Regions from separate parts of the Homo sapiens genome. Here regions 1, 2, 4 and 5 are each linked to region 3. The links come from fine-mapping of genetic effects on gene expression. A gene starts in region 3. Each other region holds a variant in brackets. All regions are shown on one strand. Distances are between the middles of the regions.

What was found.
Region 1: its variant is fine-mapped to the expression of ABTB2 in blood mononuclear cells (TOPMed, PIP 0.98).
Region 2: its variant is fine-mapped to the expression of ABTB2 in monocytes after Pam3CSK4 (Quach 2016, PIP 0.95). The same link has a PIP of 0.9 or more in monocytes, monocytes after LPS and monocytes after R848.
Region 4: its variant is fine-mapped to the expression of ABTB2 in lung (TOPMed, PIP 0.93).
Region 5: its variant is fine-mapped to the expression of ABTB2 in aorta (GTEx, PIP 0.91).

The regions. Positions count from the first base shown.
Region 1 is chr11:34,306,153-34,311,152 of GRCh38, reverse strand. The region is part of intron 1 of ABTB2 (ankyrin repeat and BTB domain containing 2); the gene reads left to right. Among named protein-coding and RNA genes, the nearest start is that of ABTB2, 49 kb to the left of the region's middle. The variant C/T (reference allele first, on the strand shown) is at 2,260.
Region 2 is chr11:34,232,025-34,237,024 of GRCh38, reverse strand. All of the region lies in intron 1 of ABTB2 (ankyrin repeat and BTB domain containing 2), which reads left to right. Among named protein-coding and RNA genes, the nearest start is that of ABTB2, 120 kb to the left of the region's middle. RefSeq lists enhancers at 2,494-2,823, 2,500-3,024. The variant T/A (reference allele first, on the strand shown) is at 2,628.
Region 3 is chr11:34,355,431-34,360,607 of GRCh38, reverse strand. ABTB2 (ankyrin repeat and BTB domain containing 2) reads left to right here and starts at 2,598. Exons shown (of 17, transcript NM_145804.3): 1 at 2,598-3,907. The coding sequence starts at 3,025. RefSeq lists a silencer at 2,413-2,612 and an enhancer at 3,563-3,672.
Region 4 is chr11:34,328,662-34,333,661 of GRCh38, reverse strand. The region is part of intron 1 of ABTB2 (ankyrin repeat and BTB domain containing 2); the gene reads left to right. Among named protein-coding and RNA genes, the nearest start is that of ABTB2, 27 kb to the left of the region's middle. RefSeq lists a silencer at 4,074-4,274. The variant C/T (reference allele first, on the strand shown) is at 2,359.
Region 5 is chr11:34,192,201-34,197,200 of GRCh38, reverse strand. All of the region lies in intron 3 of ABTB2 (ankyrin repeat and BTB domain containing 2), which reads left to right. Among named protein-coding and RNA genes, the nearest start is that of NAT10, 89 kb to the right of the region's middle. RefSeq lists enhancers at 2,216-3,044, 3,212-4,097 and a silencer at 4,566-4,751. The variant A/C (reference allele first, on the strand shown) is at 2,385.

The DNA.
Region 1 (5,000 bases), 49 kb after region 3:
GAGATGCAGCATCCTGGAGCCAGTGAAAGCTAGAGCTCTGAGGAGCCGCCTCTTCTCCCAAGGCCAAGAAGGTCAGAAACTGAAGGCAGTGGAAGGGGTCAGGCTGTGCATACAGCCCCTTTGACATGGAGAAACGGCATCTCTCTGTGGTTTCCTCAGGACCAGCACAAGTCTGACTGGTATCCTCCATCAGGACCTTGGCTGAAGAGAGGGACCACCGGGGAAATTGCTTCCCTTCCAAAAACAGCACAAATGCACACATTTGCTCTCACAGCTGTTTTTGAGTGTGTCGTGTGGGGAGCTGTGCAAGGGACTAAGGATATGAGATGCAGGTGACCATCAGTGGATTAATGAAGGAGACGCACATTAAAGAGCATAACCTCCATGCAGTCCACCCACGGAGGAGAGCCATGTTCCTTCTTAAACAGGGGTCCGTGACCCAGTTGGGTAGGAGGACTTGACTAGCAGAGGGAGGGTGCTGGGGGGTGAGGGAGGTGCAAGGAAAGGGAACAGCATGTGTGAGGGGCCCTGAGGCTGAAAAGAACAGGAACTTAAAGGCTGGAGGGATGCAGCGGAGGTTGATGTGGTCAGAACTGTGCTCTGAAAGGAGGGCTTGCTCTGGCTGGAGGGATAGGTGTGTGAGGAGGAAACCCACAAGGGCACCATGGAGTACTTCAGGGGAGAGGCAAGGCAAGCTTGGGGACGTGAGGGTGGCGGTAGAGAGAAGCAGCAGTGACAGATTTGGAAGTTGATTCGAAACTCAGAGGGTTGCAGGGAGGGGTAGGTGAATCGGGACTCACATTTCTGGCACTCACAGCAGGGTAGATGCTGGAGCTTTAATTGAGAGAGGGAGAGACACAGGACAGGGGCCAAGTTTAGGGTATCTGTGGAATAATAAAGTGGTAAAGTGAAAATGGGATAATGGATCTGAAGATAAGGATTTGAAAGTCATCTGCATATGGATGAGGGATTACTTCTCGAGCCCTTCCTGGGCTCTCAGTGCTTTCCTCCCTGAGCTCCTGTCATTGATGAGCAGGAGACATACATACTGTGCTCCTCCCCCTTTTAGATGCAGGGCGATTGCTCAATGTAATAGAAGTTACTATCACTGTTACTCAATGTCAAGGTCAAGCCCAAGTGATCGCTAGGCCGCTGTCAGGAGTGATCCGGGTTTCCTGACACCTGAAGTTAATACAGTTAAGGAAAAGAATCCAAAATTACAAATGCACAATGAGATATAAAAGTGAATATTTATTTAAAATGAGAAAAATTTGTTAAAGCTGACACACATATCACAAATCAATAACTTTAACTGCCTGACACACCTTGACAATACTGTTTTTCCCCATCTTTTTTTTTTTGACTCTGATCACCTCTTCCTATGACAATGATTCTGTACTGTTTTCTAAAGGAACAATTGAGACTTCCCTTTAAAATAGTTAACCAAAAGTTTGTTTTTCTTTTCTCCAATGGTTTTGAAAATTTTTTTTTTTAACTTCATAACTCATTATTGGTGATGTCAAGTATTAGGATTGTTGTCAAATTTGGGGAAATCGTGGCCACGTTTCTTTCATTTCTGAGCAGTGAGATTTGGAAGAACTTTCCACAAGCCTAGCTTCTGACTCTGTCCGTCATGAGTTTCGTTTCTCCTCTGCTCCCAGCACTGCCTCTGGTGTTGAGCACGGTAATGCCCGTTCATATCTTGATATAACCTCTGACCTGCACCCTTGTGTCATAACACATTTTGCAATAGGAGTCCTTCTGGAAGTCATTGGCATAAGGGATTGTTAGTGATGTATTAACTCTAAGTGGATGTGACTGCTAACCACTGAACCCAGCTGACTGTATCCCCAACTCAATTTCCTTCAACAAGGTCCCCAAAATGCCCACCCAATGCATGGGAACATGTGGTCAGTTGCAGTGGAAAGAGACAATGGTATCAACTGACAGTGGCTAATCTTACTTTGGCAAAAAAACACACGTCCATGTGAACACATTGCCAGGCCCCCTCCAGAAGTTTTGGAAGCAACCTGTATAAGTAGAGGCTGCCTGAAGTTTACGCTTCTTTGGCTTCGTAGTAAATCTGCCTCTGCTGAAATCTCAGCCTATCAGACCATAGAGGCATTCAGGATTGCAGCACATTCATGCCTTGTAAGTGCCAAAACATTGTCATTGCAATAAAATTTTAATTCTTCGAGACCAAAGCATTTGAAAAGCATTTCACACAGTTTCCTGTTTTCTTTGCTTTTCTTTCTTTCT[C/T]TTTTCTTTTTTTTTTTTTTTTTTTGAGACAGTTTCCTCTCATTGCCCAAGCTGGAGTGCAATGGCATGATCTCAGCTCACTGCAACTTCCACCTCTTGGGTTCAAGCAATTCTCCTGCCTTAACCTCCTGAGTAGCTGGGAATACAGGCGCCTGCCACCCACGCCCAGCTAATTTTTGTATTTTTAGTGCAGACAGGGTTTCACCATGTTGGCCAGGCTGGTCTTGAACTCCTGACCTCAGGTGATCCACCCGCCTCGGCTTCTCAAAGTACTGGGATTACAGGTGTGAGCCATTGCACCTGGCCAGTTTCCTGTTTTCTTAAACAGTGAGTGAGCTGCATAGATGTGACTATGTTCTTGATGACTCAAGATCCATGAGTATTCTTACAGTGCTTGTGCCCTCAGGGAGTGACCCCAAGATGTGATCGAATGTTGGTCCCAATATTAAATGGCCCCACACTGCAGTCTTAAGTTTTTATGCCTGCTTTTTGTGTTGTAAATGTTTAAGCCCTTCTAATGCTGTTAGCTGTCATTTCTTGCTGCTTTAAACAAGCTGTGGCCTGAGAAATAAAATCAGCCATCTTCTTTCAGTCAGTAGGCTGTTTTGAGGACTTGTTATGTGTCAGGTGATGGGCTGGAAATTTACATATAGTAGCAATGACTAATAATCACAAACATCCATTGCATGCTTGCCCTGTATCCTGTATTCCAAGCTCATCACATGTGTCCACACATGTAATCCTCACAGTAACCTAGGAGGTCGGAGCTACTGTTGTTATCCCCGTTTTGCAGATGAGGAGGCCCAGACACAGAGAAGTGAAGTAACTTGCCCAAAGGGTCCTGATTCCAAAAAATCCACCTTTTGATTCCATCATGCTGTGACTTAGAGAGTCATCTAGCTGGGTGCAGTGGCTCACGCCTGTAATCCCAGCACTTTGGGAGGCCAAGGCAGGCAGTCACGAGGTCAGGAGTTCGAGACCAGCCTGACCAACATGGTGAAACCCTGTCTCTACTAAAAATACAAAAATTAGCTGGGCATGGTGGCGCGTGCCTGTGATCCCAGCTATGTGGGAGGCTGAGGCAGGAGAATCGCTTAAACCCGGGAGACGGAGGTTGCGGTGAGCCGAGATCGCACCACTGCACTCCAGCCTGGGCGACAGAGCGAGACTCCGTCTCAAAAAAAAAAAAAAACAGAGAGTCACCTAACTATGAGGCCAGACTCAAACCATTAACATAAGAATCAGACCAAGAGAGCACAATCTGTGTCCCCAGGGAAATTACACTTTGGAAAATGTGTGAAAGGAAAGAATTTGTAGTGCCCTCTCTCGGAGAGCCATGAACAGGGTCTATGGCGTTTCTGTTGACTGCTCAAACTCTTTCCTTCATTTCCTGCTCATTGGCTGCATTCTGGATGGTGGAGACTGCTGAAGAGCTCAGTGCTGGGGGTGTGAGCTGTTCTCCAAGCATTTTAGGATGTAGTGGTAATACAGGTTATGCATATGAGGAGGTGGGGGAAGATGTAGGGATAAACATGTGATCTCGTTGAGAGAATGTGGCTGGTCACTTCTCAGTTCTGATCTCACAGGTGTTTTAGAGAAGTGACCTAATTGTGCTGGACTCCTCCTTTTTGTGACCTAGCAACCTGTTACCTTCAGGGAGCACTAGGAGCATTGGTTGCTGTTGAACAGTTCTCACAATACCAGGATGGAGGGCTCTCACCCACAGAAGCACAGGCCTGCAGGAGCCTAGGTGACTTGGGTTGTCCTTATGACTTAGGATACCAGGATCTAACAGACGAATTCATTCAGGGAGACATGCAGGGAAGTGTACCCTACACGCAGTGGCCCTTTACTGAGTCTTCTTAAAGTTCGTCTGCTTTTTTTCTTTCTTTTTTTTTTTTTTTTTTTTTTAAGTTTCCTGACATGGTGCTAGCTGTCATTGCTTGCTATGGCTGGAAAACTAGTAAGCAAGCTTCACTTCAGTCCAGAGGCGTCTTTAAGTACCTGCTATGTGCTGAACTCATCAGAACTTTCACACAGCAGAATTTCCCAAATAACTTCTTTGAAGAATTCTATAAAGTAATATTTGTCTATAAAAAGGAAAAGATAACTAAAGAAAGTGGTGTACCTTCCAATCTTTCTTTTCTCGGTTTTACTTATTTTTTTTTTAGAGACAGGGTCTCACTGTGTCACCCAGGCTGGAGTGCAGTGGTGCAGTCATGGCTCACTGCAGCCTCACACTCCTGGGCTCAAGCCATCCTCCCACCTCAGCCTCCTCAGTAGCTGGGACTACAGGCACACACCACCACATCCAGCTTGGAATGTCTTTTTAAAAAACAGCTTTCCAGTCTGGGCGCAGTGGCTCACGCCTGTAATCATAGCACTTTGGGAGCTTGAGGCAGGCAGATCAGCTGAGGTCAGGAGTTCGAGACCATCCTGGCCAACATGGTGAAACCCCACCTCTACTAAAAATACAAAAATTAACCAGGTGTGGTGGTGCACGCCTGTAATCCCAGTTACTCAGGAGGCTGAGGCAGGAGAATCCCTGGAACCTGGGAAGCAGAGGTTGCAGTGAGCCGAGATTGTGCCACTGCACTCCAGCCTAGATGACAGAGAAGACTCCGTCTCAAAAAAAAAAAAAAAAAAAAAAAAAAAAATCAAACTTTCCAGGCAGCTAGTGGGAGCCATTTGCTTCAAGCTTTGTCCTCCCCTGTTGGGTCTACAATGTTGTATAAGGAGAA
Region 2 (5,000 bases), 120 kb after region 3:
ATAAAATACTTCTAAACAGCTTGCTTCCCTTGTACAGTTTAAATGATTTTGTCTTTTTGCATACATTCAACTTTCTCATAAACTTGAGGTTCACCAAGGAGAGAATTATTTCCCCCACAGATAATAGCTGCCAAAATAGAGTCCGAATCCCTGAGGGTTCCCAGATGGCTGGGCACACCCAAGCTGCAGAGGCTGTCTGGAATGATTAGGGCAGAGGAAGGTGCTAATCTATCTAGGAGCGAGCAGCTTTGCGGCTGATGCGATTTCGTTTATCTACCCTCCTCGGTTCTTTGTCTCTTTATCCTCCTGTCTCCCTCCTGGCCTGGCTAACAGGCCTGATGTATCGGCATCTCAATCACTTCTGCTTCCCCAGGAGATCAAGGCCTGGCCTTGGGCCCTGAGGCCTCCCGGAGTAAATCAGTGGATTGAGGGGAGGGGGTGCCGGGGAGGCATCAAAAGAGAATGGGGTCCTCTGGCTTCAAGCTACCTAAAATCTGCTGCTTAAAATGCTGCTGTTAGGGAAAACTGGCGGCACAGAGTCCTTCTCCAGCCCTAGAAATAACCTCTCTGAAACCTGTCGAGTGACCCACCCCAAATTAGAAAGAATTTTTTGTCTTAAAAGGCACATTAAAGAGAGTCCTGTGTTTTCTGCCCTGTGCCTTCTGGAGGTAGAAGACAAGTGTGAATTCTCTACCCTTCTACAACAAGAGCAAAGGAAGAAGAAAATTTCCATATTTTCTCAGCTATTTCAAAACACATTTTTTTACCTTTCATATGAAGTGACTGTTCCAAATGACCTCTTCTTTCCAGGGAAAAAACTCTATTTTAATACTTTTTCTCCCCTCCTCTTTCTCCAGCCCTGTCTCTTTTTTCTATTTTTAATCTCCCTCTGCCAACAAGAATATCCACGGACTTCCCACCTGGCCTTTACCCTTCTCTTCCTTGCAGGGGTGTACCCACCAGCCTGCACCCGATGTCCACGATGTCTGTCCACCCCAGAACCCAGCAGCATCTCTCCCCGTCTGGCGCTCAGCCTGCTTCTGAGTGTGGGCAGCAGGGAAGCTAGGCGCTGTGCTTGCCCAGACCACACAGCTGTCTCTGTTTAGGGCTTTGCTGCCTGAAAGTTTGTTTCAAGGAGGAACAGGCTCTGCTCTGCCTTCTCAGCTTGGTCTCCTTACCTGGGGCACAAAGAGTGTTCACTTAGCTAGCGCTGACCTCCTGCAGCTAATTAATGCCTCTAGCATGGATCAGAAAAAGCTCTGCAAAGTGCAATTAGCGATGGATCACTTGTTGCTACTTCATAGGAGTGGTGTCAGCAGTATTCATGGCTTGTGGCTTAAAAGCCAGAAGGAGATCCCCAATCAGGTCCTGGATGGCTCTGATAGGCAAATCCTCTTAGGAAGGTGGGATCACAGGCACCAATTCCTTTTGACCTCCCCCGCTCCCCTTCCTGTGGGGCTTATTGAACAGAGGCTAATTCATTCAGTATTGGAGATGTAGCAGTTTATTGTGGGGTTCAAGATCCTTGTCATCTCTGAGGATAACAGAGAGAGCCCTTTTATTGAACTCTTGCTATGTGTCAGGCATTGGGTTTAGTGCTTTATGCGATATGTTCATAACCACTACAGAGAAGAAACCATATCCGCTTTACAGATGAAGAAACTGAGGTCTAGAGGTTAAGTACTTACCCCGGGTCATGGTCAGATATTTGGCTGATGGCATTCATTTCTTTTCTAGAAATGTCTTGAGCATCTATGTGGCTGACATTTTTCAGGCAATCCCTGCTATGCAGAGCTTGCATTTTAGAGGGAGTAGGGGCACCAGATACTGAGCAAGTAAGCAAATTAATAAACACAATAATCTCGGCCGGGCACGGTGGCTCACGCCTGTAATCCCAGCACTTTGGGTGGCTAAGGCAGGCGGATCACAAGGTCAGGAGATCGAGACCATCCTGGCTAACACGGTGAAACCCCATCTCTACTAAAAATACAAAAAAAAAATTAGCCAGGCGCCGTGGCGGGCGCCTATAGTCCTAGCTACTTGGGAGGCTGAGGCAGGAGAATGGCGTGAACCCAGGAGGCAGAGCTTGCAGTGAGCCAAGATAGCGCCACTGCACTCCAGCCTGGGCGAAGGAGCGAGACTCTGTCTCAAAAATAAATAAATAAATAAATAAAATAAACACAATAATCTCTGTATAAGTGCTTCAGGGAAACTAAAAGGGCCCTCTTCTGTGGCAGAACTGGGATTCCCAGTCTCTGAGGTTAAGCAGGAGCAGGTAGCATTACCCTGTAAGCTGGGAGTCGCAATAGGCAATTAGTTACCTGACTGTCCCAGGGCTTGGCACTGCCTGGTAGCCCTGCCTTTTCATAAGGAAAAGATTCCGCACAAAGCACTTTACCTAGGTTTTGTGAGAGGCGGAGCCAGAGCTGGCATCCGAGGTGTTCTCACAATGCTGGACTTTGAGGCACAGGAGAGAATTGCATTTCTCCTCTGAGCAGTGGAACCAGCCCTGGTGCCTCCCTTGCCCAGCCTCACCCTGGGACCCTGGGTGTGAGTAGTTAGTCTTGTTATCAGTGAGAGTAACCCAGGAATCTCCCTGATGGGGAAATCCCAGGTAATTTACTGTG[T/A]CTCTGATATTCCGGTTACAGCCTCTGCTCTAGAAAGGCCAGGGAGGGGAGAATCTAAAAGTTCTCCATTTCTCGCTTGAGATGGCATCCCCCCATGCTTTCCTTAGGCCTCCTTGAGTAAGGTGTCTGCAAATAGCTTCTCAGCATGACTTCACCCGGAAGCTCATCTGAGTGACTCACAGCCTGCTTTAGGCACCTCCTCCAGGGAGACGCTCTTACCCTTGCCCCCACCCCAACAGGGGAGGGGAGGGGAGAAGGGAAACCCCCTAACTGAGCCACGGAGAAGGCCTTGCCAGAGCACTGTGGAAAATACCTGCAGCCCAGCTTGGCCCTGCTTCAGGTGCCCTGGGATGTATGGTTTCTCTAGTCTTCTGAGAGGGATCAAGCTGACAATTCAAATTTGAGGGAGCGATGACCCTGGAAACTGTGTAGGTCTTAAAAAGAAATATATATCCAAACACACTGACCTGAAAAGATGTCCACAAAATACAGGATTCAGCATTAGGTGAAAAATAATTTCATTATGTTCCTGTTTCTCAAATTCGGTTTGTGATTTTAAAAAATTGATAGGTTAGTACATGTATTTGTACATGTACTATTTGTACTAAAAGCCTATTTGAAGAAAAATTATAATATATTAATAATAGTTATCTCTGGGAGGTAGTATTAAAAGAAACTTTATTCATTATTCCTTTCTGATTTTTAAAAAATAATCATAATTACCTTTATAATAAAAAAAAAAAAGGTGGGCCAGGTACAGTGGTTCATGCCTATAATCCCAGCACTTTGCAAGGCCAAGGCAGATTGCTTGAGCCCAGGATTTCAAGACCAGCCTGAGCAACATGGTGAGACCTTGTCTCTACAAAACATTTTTAGAAACTTAGCTGGGTGTGGTGGTGTACCCCTGTGGTCCCAGCTAATTGGGAGGCTGAGGCAGGAGGATTGCTTGAGCCCAGGAGTTTAACGCTGCAGTGACCTGGGAGGCGGAGGCTGCAGTGAGCCAAGGTCACACCACTGCACTTCAGCCTGGGCAACAAGGAGGCTCTGTCTCAAAAAAAAAAAAAGCTGCAGTGAGCCATGATCATGCCATTTCCCTTCTGCCTGGGTAATAGAGCAAGACCCTGTCTCAAAAAGAAAGGGTTGTTTTTTTGTTTTGCTTTGTCTTCAAAAAAATAAAAAGAAAAATCCTCATGCACCAAGCCCAGGTGTCCTAATTGTGTCCTCATTATTAAATGCCTAACTTCCCGTGGTGGACTGTTAGCAGGAAGCGACTGGGATGGACTTAACATTCACTTAGCAAACAGCTACCTCCCTAGCCACTGGAGGACCAAACCACTATGACAGGGTGTCTCCCTTCAGTGGCTCCCAGCATGATGGAGGGGGTAGTATATGTTTTGCGGGGCATTTGGGGTTTTGGGGGGAGGTTAGGGGGTTTTTTGAGACAGAGTCTCCTTCTGTCACCCAGGCTGGAGTGCAGTGGTGTGATTATGGCTCACTGCAGCCCTGACCTCACAGGCTCAAGAGATCCTCCCACCTCAGCTTCCCAAGAAGCTGGGACCATTACGCCTGGCTAATTTTATTTATTATTATGTATTTTTTTTTAAGAGACAGAGTCCCACTATGTTGCCCAAACTGGTCTCAGTGATCCTCCCACCTTGGTCTCCCAAAGTTCTGAGATTACAAGTGGGAGCCACCATGCCCCCTGACCAACCACCACCCTGCACCCAAGGCCAAGGGCTCGATAAATACTTTGCAAACAAATGGATATGTAAATGAGTAGATACTAAGTGGTCTGTGAGAGAAGGCTACAGATTGTGGTGGGGCTTCAGAAGGTCTCGAGAGGTCCCTTGCTGGGGATTAGGTTAGGCCTCGTGATGGTGCTTCTGGGATATTCCTTTTCTCTAGGATTTAAATGTCTCATTTAAGAACAATTTTTTTTTTTTTTTTTGAGACAGAGTCTCCCTCTATTGCCCAGGCTGGAGTGCAGTGGCGCGATCTCAGCTCACTGCAGCCTCCGCTTCCCAGGTTCAAGTGCTTCTCATGCCTCTGCCTCCCAAGTAGCTGGCGCTACAGGCGTGCACCACTATGCCCTGCTAATTTTTTGTATTTTTAGTAGAGATGGGGTTTCACCATGTTGGCCAGGCTGGTCTTGAACTCCTGACCTCAAATGATCCACCCACCTAGGCCTCCCCAAGTGCTGGGATTACAGGCATGAGCCACCACTCCCAGCATAAGAACAATTTTAGATTTACATGAAAGTCGCAAGAGTATTACAGAAAGTTTCCAGATACCCCACACCGTTTCCCCTATTAACATTATTAACTAAAGTTCATACTTCTTTAGGATTTCCTTAGTTTTTACCTAATGTCCTTT
Region 3 (5,177 bases):
ACTGAAATCAAAGAATTGGTTCATTCTAAGATGGCTGGATATATATATATATATATATATATATATATATATATATATATATTCATCTCTATCTATCTTCCTCCTATTCTTTTTCCCATATCACACAAAACACAAACACAGACACATTCTGGGTTTACTTGGTACTGCCAGTCCTCAGGCTGACTAGAAGACTGAGGAAAATTTGAAAGACAAGAGATCTATCTACAGTCTTTCCTAACTTCCTAGTCCCTTTACCAGATTTTTCCATGAGGATTTGTCTTCCTTTTTTCCTTGAGGAAGCCAACTCTTGAGGGCTACAAAACACTTATTTCAGCATGTGTCTCTAAAAGATAAGAACATTTGATAAATATAACCACACTACCATTACCACATCAAAAAAAAAAAAACAGTTATTCTTTAAGAGCAAACATCGAGGCAGTGTTCCTAATGGTTTCATAATGTCAAATGTTTACTGGCTTTTTAAAACAAATTCAAAATACACATAAGTTCCACACCTTGTAATTGGTTATTATGTCTTTCAAGTCTCTTTAAATGTGTAGGTCTTCTCTCCATCTCTTTCTTTCCTTGAAACTTATTTATTAAAGAAACTCAGTTGTTTGTTCAGAAGCATTTCCCATGGCTGAATTTTGCATAATATATCTTCATGTTGCAGGTCAACATTCACAGGATTCTCAGATTCAGTTGGAGGCATGTTTGATTATCTACACTTTAAGTCATCAAGTAATTTGAATATATTAATATAAATCCCATAGGCTCTTTTTCCCACTCCAGATGATTCCTCCAATAACCTTTCATTCAGTAAGTTCCCCGTTGTAAATTTCCAGTTAAGTAATTCTCTTTAGGTTTGATGGGTGCGCACAACGAAGAAAAGGGGGGACAGGGAAACCTTTCTGAAATTCATTTCCTTTGAATATATCCATTAGAGGGCGACATTGCCTTTAATATTATATTTCCCCAATAAAGTTTTAAATTGCATAAAATTTACTTTTGTATTTTTGACAAGTTGGACCTCATTGCCTACTTTAATTTCTAATCTCACGTCTGTAAAGTGTGACTGCATTCTCCTTTGTTAGTTTGATCTCTGCTGACTTGCGTCTTTGGTATTACAGTACTTCCATCTTTGACTCTGTTCCCAATTCTAACCATCGGGCGGCGATGTTGCATAAATAAAGACCCGCGGAAAGGCAAAATTAAGCGAAACTGCCAAATAAAAAGCAGTTTCACCGGGGGTAAAGGCCATTAATTTAAGAAGGAAAGAGACAAACCAGACATTTCTAGTTCATATCCAACTCACGGCCCAAGGTCAGAACTGTGTAAAATGCAACACAAAGGAGCCATTCAGGAGTGGGGGAGGCTGACTTGGGGAGAGCGAATGCACAATCCCCGCCTTGAGCCTGCGGTTCCACTGGAGGGGGCACAGGTCCGTTTGCGCACGTGCGTGTGAGTAGCCACAGGGCAGCGGCGGGACATGCCTGCACCGGGCATGGGACTGCTGAACCAACAGCGCTCTGGCGGACCGTTTGGGACACCCGCCCGGAGGCAGGTTGGCACTGGCGCTGCCTGGAGGTCAGCCACTCATTGTACCCCGGAGGAACTGGGTCCCGCGGGGGCATACGGCTCGCCCACCGGCACGCGTTAGGAGGCGAACACCTGCATCCAGCTAGGTGTTCCGAGCTCAGCCCAGGGCGAGGGACTGCTCTGCCACCTTCTTCTCATTCTTCCTGTAAGAACACTGTCTATCTCGGACAAAAAGGACCCACCTGACAGCAAGTGGTATCGTCACACAGAGGTAACAGGGAAGTCACGGATCCTCTTGAGAATCTGACAAAAGTTGGTGCCCCTTCCCCATAGTGGCACTCAGAAAACTGCAGGTGAAACCACAAATGGGCGGAGGCACTCACAGGCTTCCTGGGGCCCGTCCATTGATCAGATACCAGGTTAAGAAATTCTGTCCTTATTGGAGCCTAGACGGCAGCGCAAAGGAACCAGACGGACTTGGAAAGAGAGGCAGGGACTCCCTCCTCCCTCCAAACACAGCCAGCGTTTCATCTCGGATTGCGGGAGGGGCCTGGCGGAAGGTGGAGGAGAGGTGGAGCGCCTGGATGGGGCCCTCCCCATTCTCCTGGCCCCAACCCCAGGACGCCTGGCTGCGGAGGGCTCGAAAGCGAGCAGCGAACGCCCAAAGCCTGGGTGGCGGGAAGGTGGCAGCGCCCTGTAGCTTTTCCTTTGCATTTTTCTTTAAATCGTGAGCTCCGGAGCTATCGTTTCGACCGCTGCTTTCCGGTCTCCACCTCCACCTCCCAGTTGGCTGGCTCGCCCTTCCCCCACCCCCCCATCCCCCCCATCCCCCCCCATCCCCACCCCCATCCCAGCCGCGTGCCCGACCCTCGGCCTCCAGCCCCGCCTCCTTCGCCGCGGGGTTTAACCCGAGGCAGAGTGAAATCTGCATAGTGACCGCCCCCTCGGAGATCATTGGTGCAGCCCCGCCCATCGCGGCCGGTGATTGGTAAGCCGCCCGGGGTTATTTGCATGTCGGACGCAGCCGGGTACCCAGCTGTGCTGCCGGCCGGCGCAGCGCAGAAGTTTGCAGAGCGCTTTCTCGCCGGCTGGTCCCGGACTCGCGCTGCGCCCTGCGCCCTGCGCCGCCGCCTCCTCCTTCTGCCGCCGCCGCCCTGTTCTCCCGGGATTCCTTCTCTGTGGAGGACTGACTCTCTGCTTGTGGGAATTAGAGGTGGACAAGGGGGAGTGCCGGGGGGTAGCGACGGGGTTCTTTCCAGTGGCAGCTGCGAGTCGGGACGCCGGGAGCGTGGGGCTCCTGCTGGCCACGGATCTCGGCCACCTTCCCGCGGCCTCCGGGCAGGCAATGCGGCCGCCGAGCCCCGCGACGCAGAGAGGAAGGAGGGTGGCCCGGAGGGCCTAGAGCTTGTTTCTGCCCACTTGGGAAAGAGGGCATGGAGTTGTGAGTGCCCCTCGCTCGGCGACGCCGCCCTCGGCAGGCTCCCCATGGCCGGGACGTACAGCTCGACTCTGAAGACGCTGGAGGACTTGACCTTGGACTCCGGGTATGGGGCCGGGGACTCGTGCCGCTCGCTCAGCCTCTCGTCCTCCAAGTCCAACTCGCAGGCGCTCAACTCTTCGGCGCAGCAGCACCGCGGGGCGGCCTGGTGGTGCTACTCCGGCTCCATGAACAGCCGCCACAACAGCTGGGACACGGTGAACACGGTGCTGCCCGAGGACCCCGAAGTGGCCGACCTCTTCTCGCGCTGTCCGCGGCTCCCCGAGCTGGAGGAGTTCCCCTGGACCGAAGGAGACGTGGCCCGGGTGCTCCGCAAAGGCGCTGGCGGCCGGCGGCTGCCCCAGTTCTCCGCCGAGGCGGTGAGGCGCCTGGCCGGGCTGCTCCGCAGGGCACTGATCCGCGTGGCCCGCGAGGCGCAGCGCCTGAGCGTGCTGCACGCCAAGTGCACCCGCTTTGAGGTGCAGAGCGCCGTGCGCCTGGTGCACAGCTGGGCGCTGGCCGAGAGCTGCGCGCTGGCAGCCGTCAAGGCGCTGTCCCTGTACAGCATGAGCGCCGGCGACGGGCTGCGCCGGGGCAAGTCCGCGCGCTGCGGCCTCACCTTCTCAGTGGGTCGCTTTTTCCGCTGGATGGTGGACACCCGAATCTCCGTGCGCATCCACGAGTACGCAGCCATCTCCCTCACCGCCTGCATGGAGAACCTGGTGGAGGAGATCCGGGCCAGGGTGATGGCCAGCCACAGCCCTGATGGCGGAGGGGCCGGAGGCGGGGAGGTGTCTGCTGAGGCCCTGGAGATGGTCATCAACAACGACGCCGAGCTCTGGGGCGTCTTGCAGCCCTATGAGCATCTCATCTGCGGCAAGAACGCCAATGGTAAGCGCGCGGGCCTCGGACTGGCAGACTGGGTAGGCAAGAAATCCCGCCCTGGGCTACTGGGGGAGTGAATTTCCTGAGACAAAGCTGGTGGCTGTGCCAGTTCTTTGGGAGAAAACGTTTGGTCTGAGGATAGGGTTCATTACATGGCACTTGCCAGAGATTGTTCTAAGGGTGTCTGACTTTTGGAGGGTAAACTTGTGAATGATCTCCATCCTGTTCTGCGTGGCATTGTTACTATCTGCGGGCTGTTCATTGATTGGGTGAGATTGAATCTCTTGACCAAGCCATTCCTGAACCTCTCTTGAAATGAAACTTACTGCCCCGTGGCTCTTTACCGTGATTGACTAGGTCTCTAGCTGCTGTCTTTCCCCAACAGCTGGTTAGATTGACTGATTCTGCCCCCTAGTTTTCCCCAGCTCAATAGCAGCAACCAAAGGGTCCCAACTTAAAGACCTGAACCTTGGATAAGTAAGATGGGCGGAGGGAAGTGGGAAGCCCAAGATCTGGTGCTGCGCCTTGTGCTTTGCTGGGCTGAAGGATGCTGTCAGGCGCTCTCTTGGGGGATGGAGGGGTAGTGGTTCGCTCTTACCTATATGTGCCCAGGAATGATGAAACCTGGGGACCCCGACTCCCCTTCCCAGAAAAGTAACCACAGATTGTCTCCTGAGACCTGATTTTTCCAAGCTGTCACCAACCAAGTGAGCCATTGGTTAAAACCTTGCATTGTATTAAATGTTCTTTCCTGAAAAGAGTGGTGGCCCATCAAGGGGAAGAGATAGGTAACCGCATGGGGTCAAGTCTGGGAAAGGAACCATTGGGTGGTTGCACTTCCCTGAAGATAGCATGGATTTGGTGCAAAGGATGGAAACAAAGCACATGACCTTTTCCCTGACAATGTTAGGGGGTGTGACATTGCATTCAACTGCAAACTACCTACAAGACTTCAGTTTGAGAAGTCAGCACCATAAACTGTTCAGAATGGTATTATGGTTAAACAGCCTTACGATCTGATTGGAAGGCCATTTGGGGGGCAGCTTTCAGTGGCAAATAAGCAGGCAGTGGAAGAGGTCAGGTGGGGACTGGAAAGGGATAAAAGAAGTCAAAACATGGTTTAACATAATCATAATAGCTGAAATGCAAAATAACCCTTAATGTGTCGTCATTATTCTCAGCACTTTGTATTTAACTCAAGTACTCCTAGCAAGCCTATTAGGTAGGTACTTACTGCATAGTATGATGCCCATTTTACAGATAAGGAAACCAAGGT
Region 4 (5,000 bases), 27 kb after region 3:
GCCTCAGCCTCCCGAGTAGCTGGGATTACAGGTGAGCACCACGATGCCCAGCTAATTTGTTTATTTTAAGTAGAGACAGGGTTTTGCCATGTTGGCCAGGCTGGTCTTGAACTCTTAACCTCAAGTGATCTGCCCACCTTGGCCTCCCAAAGTGCTGGAATTACAGGCTTGAGCCACCATACCCAGCCTGTTTTTCCTTTATTTTTAGTTTTTGGGAATTTTGTTTGTTTGTTTGTTTTTCTTATTTATTTGTTTTGTTTTGTTTCTCCTTTAGTATAGATTGGGATGCATAAAGACCAGAGTCTTAAATGCACAGCTTGATGAATTTTTACCCAGACATGCCGCTATGTAACTTACCCAGGTCAAGATCAAGATTTAAAACACTCCTGCCTAGGAGACACCCTCATGGCCATTCCTTGTTAGTGTCTACCCCACATAACTATTATTCTGACTCCTGCCACCTTCAATTACTTTTACCTGTTCTTGAACTTCTGGGGGTAGGTAAATTATTAAACCTTTCTGAGCCTCAGTTTATTTTTTAAAGTGATAGTACTTGTGCTATAGGGTTGGATTAGGAGAATCAACTGAGACAACACATGTAAAATCATTCGAGAAATATTTGTAAAACCCTTGATGCTTAATAAGTTAAAGCTGTTTGTTTATGAATGGCCATTGTTGACCTCAAAGTCTTTGCCTGTTTCTCACCCAGACGAAGCAGGCATTTCCCCAGTGCTCACCATAATTCATGTTCCTGTGCCCTCCATTTCCTTCCATGTCCTGTGACTCCCTGAACGCACTTCAGAGACTGTTCCATCAGTGGCTTTCAGGATTTTTTTTTTTTTTTAACTGAAACCAGTTCTTCTTGCTTAATAAGGCAGAGGAAATGGGCAGGAAAGCAGAGTTCTCCTGCCTTTGCCTCTTTTTCAAAGAGGGTCTGTTTGCTCTATTAGCAAAATCAACAGAGGCATTGCTGGACAGCGGGCTAGGCTGGACCAACTCCCCTGGGCTCGGGGGGTGGTCCCTGGATGCTGGGTTTGCTGAGGGCCAGGAGTGGGTCACTGTGTGCTTTCAAAAGCAGCTGGAGGAGCCAGTTTTTCTAGCTCCTCCTCAAAAAACCCAACCAAAATATCTACCCCTGTGATTGGCTAAAATTATCCAATTATAATTTAATTCCCTTAGGTCAAGGGTGGATGGGTGCATAATACCCTGAGTGTGAGTGTGGGGGTTACATTTTCGGAGGGAATAATTTTGCGTGTAGGATTCCATTTGACCTTAGTCTGAATGATTACTAGCGTAGCCTTTCCTTAAGGTAGGTCTTCATGGAGGAGAAGGGAGAACTGTGCAGTGGGTAGGTGGCAGTGAAGATGCAGGAGGCTGGGACAGGTTAGAGGGTGAATGCTCCAAATTTGTGATGTGATCTAGAGCTAGGTCTGCCTACAGCCACATCACATGCATTTACAGATGCCTCCTTTACGTTAAGTGCTGCATCAGAATAGAGGCGAAAAGTTACAGTCCTGCCCTTCAGGAGCTCTGGGTCCGAAAGCAAGAATCAAACAGGCAGTTGTAATACAGGCTATTGCATACTATACTGGGAAGACCATGGCTACAAAATCAGATTGGGGGCATGGAGTTGTCATAGTCCCAGAGGTGGTCATTTGTGTTGAGATCTGAAAGATAAATAGAAGTTAGCCCTCAGGCTTGTAAAACCTGTGACTCATGTCACCATATCCTTGGGACTCTCACCAGGAAATACATTTCCAAGGATAACTTCTGCTCACTCCATAAATGAGGTTTGGCTTTTACTGAACTACTTAACACTTTTGCTAGCAGCAAAGCTGGGGTTTTTAATTTTTCTTTTTCCCGCAGTCTTGCAACCCTTCTACCCCGTGCAATGTAAACTTGAATACATAGATCTTCTGGCTCTGCAAAAGATTATCACTTCTTCTGGGTGAGTGAAAGAGGCTGGATGGGAAGATTCATTTATCAACTGAAGACTTTATTAGTAAGAGTTTATGAGTAAGAGAGTAACCTCATTACAGAGCCAGAAGAGAGAGATGTTTGTTATGGAAGAGATACCCACTTGGCATCCCTCACGTGGCCAGTCATGGTGTTTGGGGCCAGCATGCCAAATTGCTCCAGTTACCATGGGACCCAGACTTAGACAGGAAATCATGGTAGGATGGGAAGGAGTCCAAAATACACATGGCTGGTATATAGGCTACAGTTAGAAAAGAGAGTAAGAGAACAGTGTATCTATTTTCCTGAAGGAGTATTGCAACCTCAGATGGGGTTGTTTTTCCACAACTCCTTACTCCTTGCGTTTTATGGTCCTGATTTTTCAAGCTTTAATTTTTTCCG[C/T]GTTAAGCAATACTTACATGAGTTGAAGTGACCCTTTATATGCTTGTGGTAAGCACTTCTTAGGCTTGTCATGTATGCTTTTTAAAATGCCTCCAAACTAAAAAGAAGCCAAAGTCCCTTCAATCAGGAGGACTTTATTCTTCAACACGTGGAAGGAATATCTTTTTGGTTTTACCACAGCTGTCTCTTTCCTGCAAGCAGCCCATTTGAAACCCAGAACTCCCTCGTTTTATGGGATGTGCTGGTGGAACATAGGAGGGGGTCCACTGGAAGGCTGGATTTCTTGGAAATCTCTGCTGCCAAGCTCAGCAACTGAAATTTCTCATTCATAAAGAGGCAGATTTGCATCCTGCCCATGAAGTTGTTAAAAGAAGTTGGAGAATCAGGAAGGGGATCTTACCTGTACTTTTGCAGATGTAGCTCTGGAAAAGTTCCAAAGGGATCTGACTGCATGCACATAGCTTGGGAACAGTTCCAGGCCTCCAGAGGAACATTTAACAGGTCACTATTGATAGCATTTTCCATGAACCACCCTAACATATTTCTTGGGAGTGTGCTAAACTGTTGATGAAATGACAGTTATAGCATGGGGTTTGCACCCCTATGCCTCATTGACAACTATCTCTCTGCTGGATTGGGTATAATTTATCAATTGAATTTATTTCATAAGTTTATTGCCTTTACCCCACACTATGATGTTATAACCATGGCCATTTTAGGAATGAGAGGTGATGACAATAATCCCTAATACAGGTACAGTTTCTCATGGTTTTTACAAAGCACTTTCACATTCTTTCTCATTTGATCTCACAGCTATTATAGCTACCATTTATTGTGTCTTTCTATATATCAGACACCTTACTAAACACTTTATAAACTTTACCTTATTTAATTCTTAAAATAACTCTGTGCAACAATACTCTGATTTGTTCCCATTTTACAAAGAAGGAAACTGAGGGTCAGAGAGATTGGGCCTCTTGACCCAAATCCTAATCTTGGATCTAGGGTAGACTAGGGATTTGAACCTAGATCTACCCAACTCAAAGCCCAAAATACCAGGCAGTACTGGCTCCTATTCTCCCTGTGTTAGAGGCAGAGGGCTTTGTTTTCCTTTAGAAGAAAATGAAGTGCAGAAGGGTTTACTTGAGGTCCCATGGCCAAGGAGTGACCCAGCAGGGACCAGAAGTCAGGAGTCCTGAGATCAGTGCTTTGTCGTTACCCAAGACCTGTTTATCTAAGCAGTATTCCCCAAGTGAAGTCCCTGGCACTTCCCAGCCAGCAACCACTTGGTCAGAAATAGCCAGTCCTGGACTCATACTTGGGCACAGAGATGGGACGGAGTTCTGGGAATCCAGTGCATCATTCTCATTTCCTAAGTAATTTAAAGCTAAGAAACCATAAAGTAGCTTCTAAGTACACTTCTGTTTACCATTTCAGTGTCAGGACTCTGCAGGCTACAGACACAGTTGAATTTACTGGCTTGTTTAAAAGTCCCAAAGTAGGATTGGCTTCAGGTACACTTTGACTCAGAGGTTCACTGGTACCTTTGGGACCCTGTTTCTTTTGCTTACTCTTGCTTCTGGATTCTGCTCCTGGGTTGGCTCCATTATCTGGCAGCCTTTCTCCTGTGGTTGCAAACTAGCTGCAGCAGCCTCAGCTTTGAAGCTGAGTAGGAAAGGGGACCAGTTGGCTTCTTGTGATAGCTCAAAGATTCTGGACTTGAGTCTCGTTGGCTCTGATGGGCCTGGCCTAGGTCATGTGCCCCATCATTGAACCAGTCATTGTAGTCCATAACCACATGCTCCACCCCATGCTGAGAGGGAAGGTTGGGAGCCCTCATGGCCTGAGAACTGTAGGTCAGCTGTGGATAGAAGAGGAAGATTGGATGCTGTGGAGAGAAGATGCTGGGTGATCTGGGCAGGGGGGTGGAGTGGGAAGTGGGATGGAAGATGGATCTGGAAGGAAGTGGAGTGGAAAAACCAGTCTTCTAGAGAAACACATCACCACATTAAGTAGGGCAAGGGTAACTTTATTTGAAGAGTTTCAACAGACCATTAATGAGAGTATCTTTTGGTTGCTGCTGTTAGAGCAATTATTTGTTATATTCACTGACTTCAGTGTTTATTTGTTCTAATGAAACCTTTCCTCTCTGAAAGAGAAGCACTTCTTTAGAGGGTGTCTTAAATATTCAGATTACAGGTTTGAAGGAGTGAGCCATTTAGGTGCTGAATAGCTTGCAGGCTGGGTTTATTTCTGTCTTAATGGGATCTTAAATTGTGCCAGATGAATTTAAATGTTACTTCTCTTCTAGTCTATCTCTGACCCAGTGCTACCTTGACATACTTGAAGTTTTAGTTCAACTGTTTGGTCTAAACTGAGTGTTGACAATTATTATTGAAAAGTTCATCTCGTAGATTTTTGCTTTTAATCAGCTGTAGATGCAAATAGAAGGTGTGACCATATGAGAGGCCACGTGTTTTCAGGATTCTGGATGGCTAAGTGGCCAATTTGCTTTCCATTTCAGAACTAAACCAGACAAGGAGGGGTGTTATAAAATGTTCCTTTTGAAGTACCTACAACTAACTAGATCCAGATAGTGTGAATGTTGAGAGCCAATAAGGGTTCCTTGAATGCCTGCCCGG
Region 5 (5,000 bases), 160 kb after region 3:
CCTGTGAGGAGGTGGCCCAGGAATTCCGATGGATGAAGGCCTGCACTGGTGTGCAGTGGGATTTTTTTTTCCTCTGAGCTGATGCAGCATGGGGCCACTGAGGCTCAGAACGTGTGCTTCTGCCTCTGTGCCCAGTCTGGCATGAGCTCACTGGGCTCTCTGAAATTCAGCTGCCTTGTTATAAAATGAGATAGTCACACCCACCTAGAAAGGTTAGTGCTCTGAGTAAAAGCATGTAGGATGGGGGCTAGGTGGGAACTGGCCCTTGGCCAGTGGTAGCTGTCACCTCTTTTCATGGGTTTATCCCATTCAAAAGTGATCAAATGATCATTGCTGCCGTCATTGTTATGAGGGGTCCTGGGTGTGTTTTGCCCCATCCATTCATTTAACACAGGAGACTATCCTGGCCCTGGCAGCTCTCTGATCTCCAGCAGGTTAGTGGTTGAATAGCCCCTGGACCCAAGCCTGTGGGCTTCTAGTCAGGTACTTTCACTAGAGGGTCCCAACACTTTCCTAGCTGGGAGCAAGGCTGCAAAGAACAGATGTGCAGGTTGTATACTGCACAACAGAACCCAATGAGGGGCATGAGTAGGGGATGCACGTGGGGCCATGTCAGCCTGAGGACAGGATACCTTTTCTTTTTTTTTTAGACGGAGTCTTGCTCTATTGCCCAGGCTGGAGTGCAATGGCACAATCTTGGCTCACTGCAAGCTCCACCTCCAAGGTTCACGCCATTCTCCTGCCTCAGCCTCCCGAGTAGCTGGGACTACAGGTGCCCGCCACCACGCCTGGCTAATTTTTTTGTATTTTTAGTAGAGACGGGGTTGCACTGTGTTAGCAAGGATGGTCTCGATCTCCTGATCTCGTGATCCACGCGCCTTGGCCTCCCAAAGTGCTGGGATTACAGGCGTGAGCCACCGCGCCCGGTCTTAGGATACCTTTTCTAATGGGTTTTCTCTGAGGGCTGCCTTTTGAAATTTTCTACCTGGAAAATATAATATTTTTTTTATAACTCGTACCAAACATTGTATATGCTGGCATGAGCCTCACATGGAGGCCACTGCTTGGCCACTTAAGGTAAGGTCTGTCCATGGGCTCAAGAGTTGTGGGTTTGAGGGTCCAGGAAGTGGGAAAGGCTTGCACTCAGTTTAGGAAGCCCCATCCACACACATTTCACCACTCAGTGAAGCCCAGGAAAGGCAGAGCCCACGGGCCTCAGTGCCCCACCTGGAGGGAGACGATCTGAGACCTCAATATTGGAAGTCCCAGGGGCTCTGCAGTCCCCTTGCCTGGCTGTCCGCTGTCTTTGGGGGGCATTGAGTCTCATCAGCTCTGTGATCCACAGCTGGCTCCACAGCCAGGTCTGCTTCCTCAGTGCCCCAGAAAACAAAGGCACTAAGGTGGATTTACTGAGTGTTTACTATGTGCTAGGCACTGTGCTGAGCAGTTTGCAGGCGGATGCTCAGTTAATTCACACACTACCAAGAAAGAGGTGTTCTTCAGAGCCCCATTTACAGATGAGTAAGTGGAGGCTTGGAGAGACTAACTGGCCCCACGACACAGGCTCATAACCACTACACTGTACCTCCTGTCACTAAGAGGAATATAAAACAGCAGTGGCCCAGTACACGCATAGTAGGGTCCCAGTAAATGGTACCATTGCTGTTATCAGTACTAGTATCCTTATGTCATCATTGTTTTACTTCTCTGGGAGTTGGAGGGCAAATGCAAGTCTGAGGAGGGCCACCCTGGGCCTGACACAGCAAGAAGGCTGCAGGTGGAGCCCTGGGCATCCTGAAAGACACCTTTGGCGGGAGCTGGGGCCAAAGCATAGGCCCTAAGCCCCAGCTGTTCCTGCTTTGTGGAAAAGTGTTGTGGTTGAAGGAGTCAGCTGGGAAGGAAAAAGAGCAGGGAAGATATCTGGGAGGAAGAGGCAGGAGGCTTGCTTGCTGTTTGGTAAGGTGCTGGGCTGAGGCCGGGTCATTCACACAAAGGTGACTGGGAGGACAGGCGCCTTCTTCAGGCCTGTTGCCCTGGCTGCTGGGCCCTCAGGCTGTCATGGCTATAGGCCCAGGGGCAGTCATTCCTCTGCTGGCACTTTCTCCCGCCCCCACTCCCCCCCCCCGCCGGGCATCTTTGTCATGTCCTGTGGCTTTCCCCCAGGAGGGTTCCCAGCCCCCTGTACTCTAATACACAGCATCAGGGTTTCTTCATGATCTGAGTTGCACAGCCCTATGTGGTTATAATAGCTGAGCTTGCATGGTAGTAGACACACGTGCATGTGTTTACGTAGCCATTTATTTAAAAACCGCACTATCTGTAGCACAAATAATTTGGTAGCAAAGATATTTTTCCATGAATCATTTCAAATGAATATCAGACAC[A/C]TGGGGAATTGGAACCCCCATTAGGAAAAAAAAAAAAAAACCAAATTTTTAAGTTATGACACAGAAAGGAGGACAACCCTAAAAATACCTGAGGGAGCCAACAGCCCGACGGCGCCCTGGTGGCCTGGCTCCTGTCGCTGAGCAGATCTGCTGCCCTCTGGCTCACTGACAGGGAAGGCCCTGGAGGCTGTGGGGATCCTTCCTGGGAGCGCTGAGCTTACAGCATTACTGCAGGCTGGGCTGGGCCAATGTCCCATCAAGGCCCCAGCACCCTGATACCCTCACCAGAGCTCTGGGGAAAACCTCTCCTGATGCAAATAGTAGCTGGAGTTTGCTAGGGTTCCAGAGTGGCAGAGCTTTGCTTTTGTGAGTTTGGGGATGTGCGACGTCTGTCTCTTGCTCCACTTCATCCTCCTGAAGCCCCGTCCTCTGTCCCACCTGGAAGCATGGCGGACTGAGTTCACCCAGCCAGAATTGGACGGAGCCCCTGATTTCAATGTGACCGTGGTTGTCTGGCTGTAGAGACTGTCTGTTTGGGGATTGGTGGCTCTCTGGGTTTGTTTGGGATTAAGTGACCTCCTCTACTGCCTTGCACACATGGGAGAGGGAGCTCAGTTTGGTGATATGGGTTTGGCAGCATGACATCATTGATGGAACCACTCAAGTCTGTCCTCATATTTCTGCTTTAAAGAAAGGTACCCTGATTCCTTCAATTAGGGGCTATGTGTGACCACATCCATGGCGACAAAGGGAAGGGACGTGTGTTCATCTCTTTTGTGTGGAGCTCACTGTGGCATTCCCTGCTAAGCCACCTGCTGCTTCTGCAGTGTTTGGTGGGGACTTCACATCTTTCCGTAAGGGGCCTTCTCCCCAGAGCTCTCTGCTCTGGTTTGGGAGAAGAGACAGTGGGAGGAGGGAGGGGCAGAAGCAGCAGGAACTCAGAGTGGTGAGCGGGCAGCCTTGCAGGGAATGAGAAGCCTCTAACCTCCTTTCATCTACTCCTGCAGTGAGCCTGGTGCATCAAGAAACAGTACAGGCTTTGGGGCAGAGGCCTGGGCTCAGAGGGCCCTTCCATGCCTTAGGCTCCTCACCTGTAAAATGGGGCTAAGTAATTCTATCCGGTAGGACAAAGTCAGATAACATACGCCCTTCTTTTAAAGCCCATTTCTACCTACTTCTAGGCCCAAAGAACTTCAGCAAGTTTGGTGCTATCATTACCTCCGTTTCACAAGTGAGTACAGGAGGCCGCGGGGTACCTGGCTGATAAGTGGCGAGGCCAGGATTCAAACCTGAGGTCTCTCTCACCTCAAGGCCTTTGCCTTTCCCTGTGCCAGGCTGTGGCTTTCCCAGCTGGCTGCTGAGACCTGATCCTACAGCACTGAGGCATGCTGGGTGGGCCCTGGCCTTTGGGGCCACCTTCTCTGGGGCCATTCCAGCCCCACCCCCTCACTATCCTGGGAAAGCTCTGCAGCTGGAGCCTCCCTGCACCCTTCCAGGGTGCCTTTCTCACTGGCAGCTTTGCATCCCAGGCACCAGCCAGGCACAAGGCAGAGTCTAAAACACAGAATTAGTCACAGCTGCTGCCCTGCAGGGTGTGTCATCACCGGAGATCAAGCTTAGAAAGTGAAAGAGCCTCTTGTCAGGGATCCAGGTTGCCCAGGGAGATCGGGAGCCTCCTTCCTCTGAGGTCTGGAGGAGAAAGGACAACCATCTGGTTAGATGTGGCCCTTGCTGGTTGTGCCTGGGGGCAGAGGGATGGGCTAGCTGGAACAGAATCTTTGGCAGAGGATATACCTCCTCAGCCATCACCCTTCTGGGGAATGAGAGGTCTGGGGCAGTAAGGATAAAGACTACGCAGACACGTAGGAAGGCAAGAGGGCCGCCCGCTTGCCAGCAAATTGCTGGAAGGCAGCGTCATCAAGTAGAGGAGACAGAGGGAGACATGCAGTCAGAGGTGCAGAGGGCCTGAGGTCGACAGGAGGTGACCATTTCTCCACATCAGAACCTGGGCTGCTGGAGGGTTTGGGGTCCCCCAGGCACCCTTCCAGACTGCATCTACTGTGAGCAGCAGCAAAGAAGCCAGACCCTTGAGGAGTGGCCAGGCAGAGAGAGTGGGAATGGCAGAGGGCCACTGGTCCACAGAGCGGTCCGCTTGCTAAGCCTCAGATCCTGGCCTCTTGCCTCGTTCTCCCCAGCCCTGCACAGCACGTCTCCGCCTCTGTGGAGGGTGGCACACTCAGAAGGCTTGGAGCCTGCTGGTATCCAGGACATGAAAACAGGAGGAGTGTGGAACCCTTCCCAGAGTTCTGATTGGGGGTCGGGCCTAGAAACCTCTGGTGTCATGACTTCGTAGCCAGCCAGAATAGCCCCATCTGAGGAGGGCCCTGCTATTCAAAGGCGTGCATTTGAGATCTACCTTGCCACTTTTTATAACCTTCAACCAGTCATTTAACCTCTTCAAGGCTCTTAATCATCTGTAAGGTATGCGGACCCAATGAGTTAACATATTTGGGGGGTTTTCTTGGAAACAGGGTCTTGCTCTGTCTCCCAGGCTGGAGTGCAGTGGCACAATCTCAGCTCACTGCCTCTTTGACATCCTGGGCTCATGCAATCCTC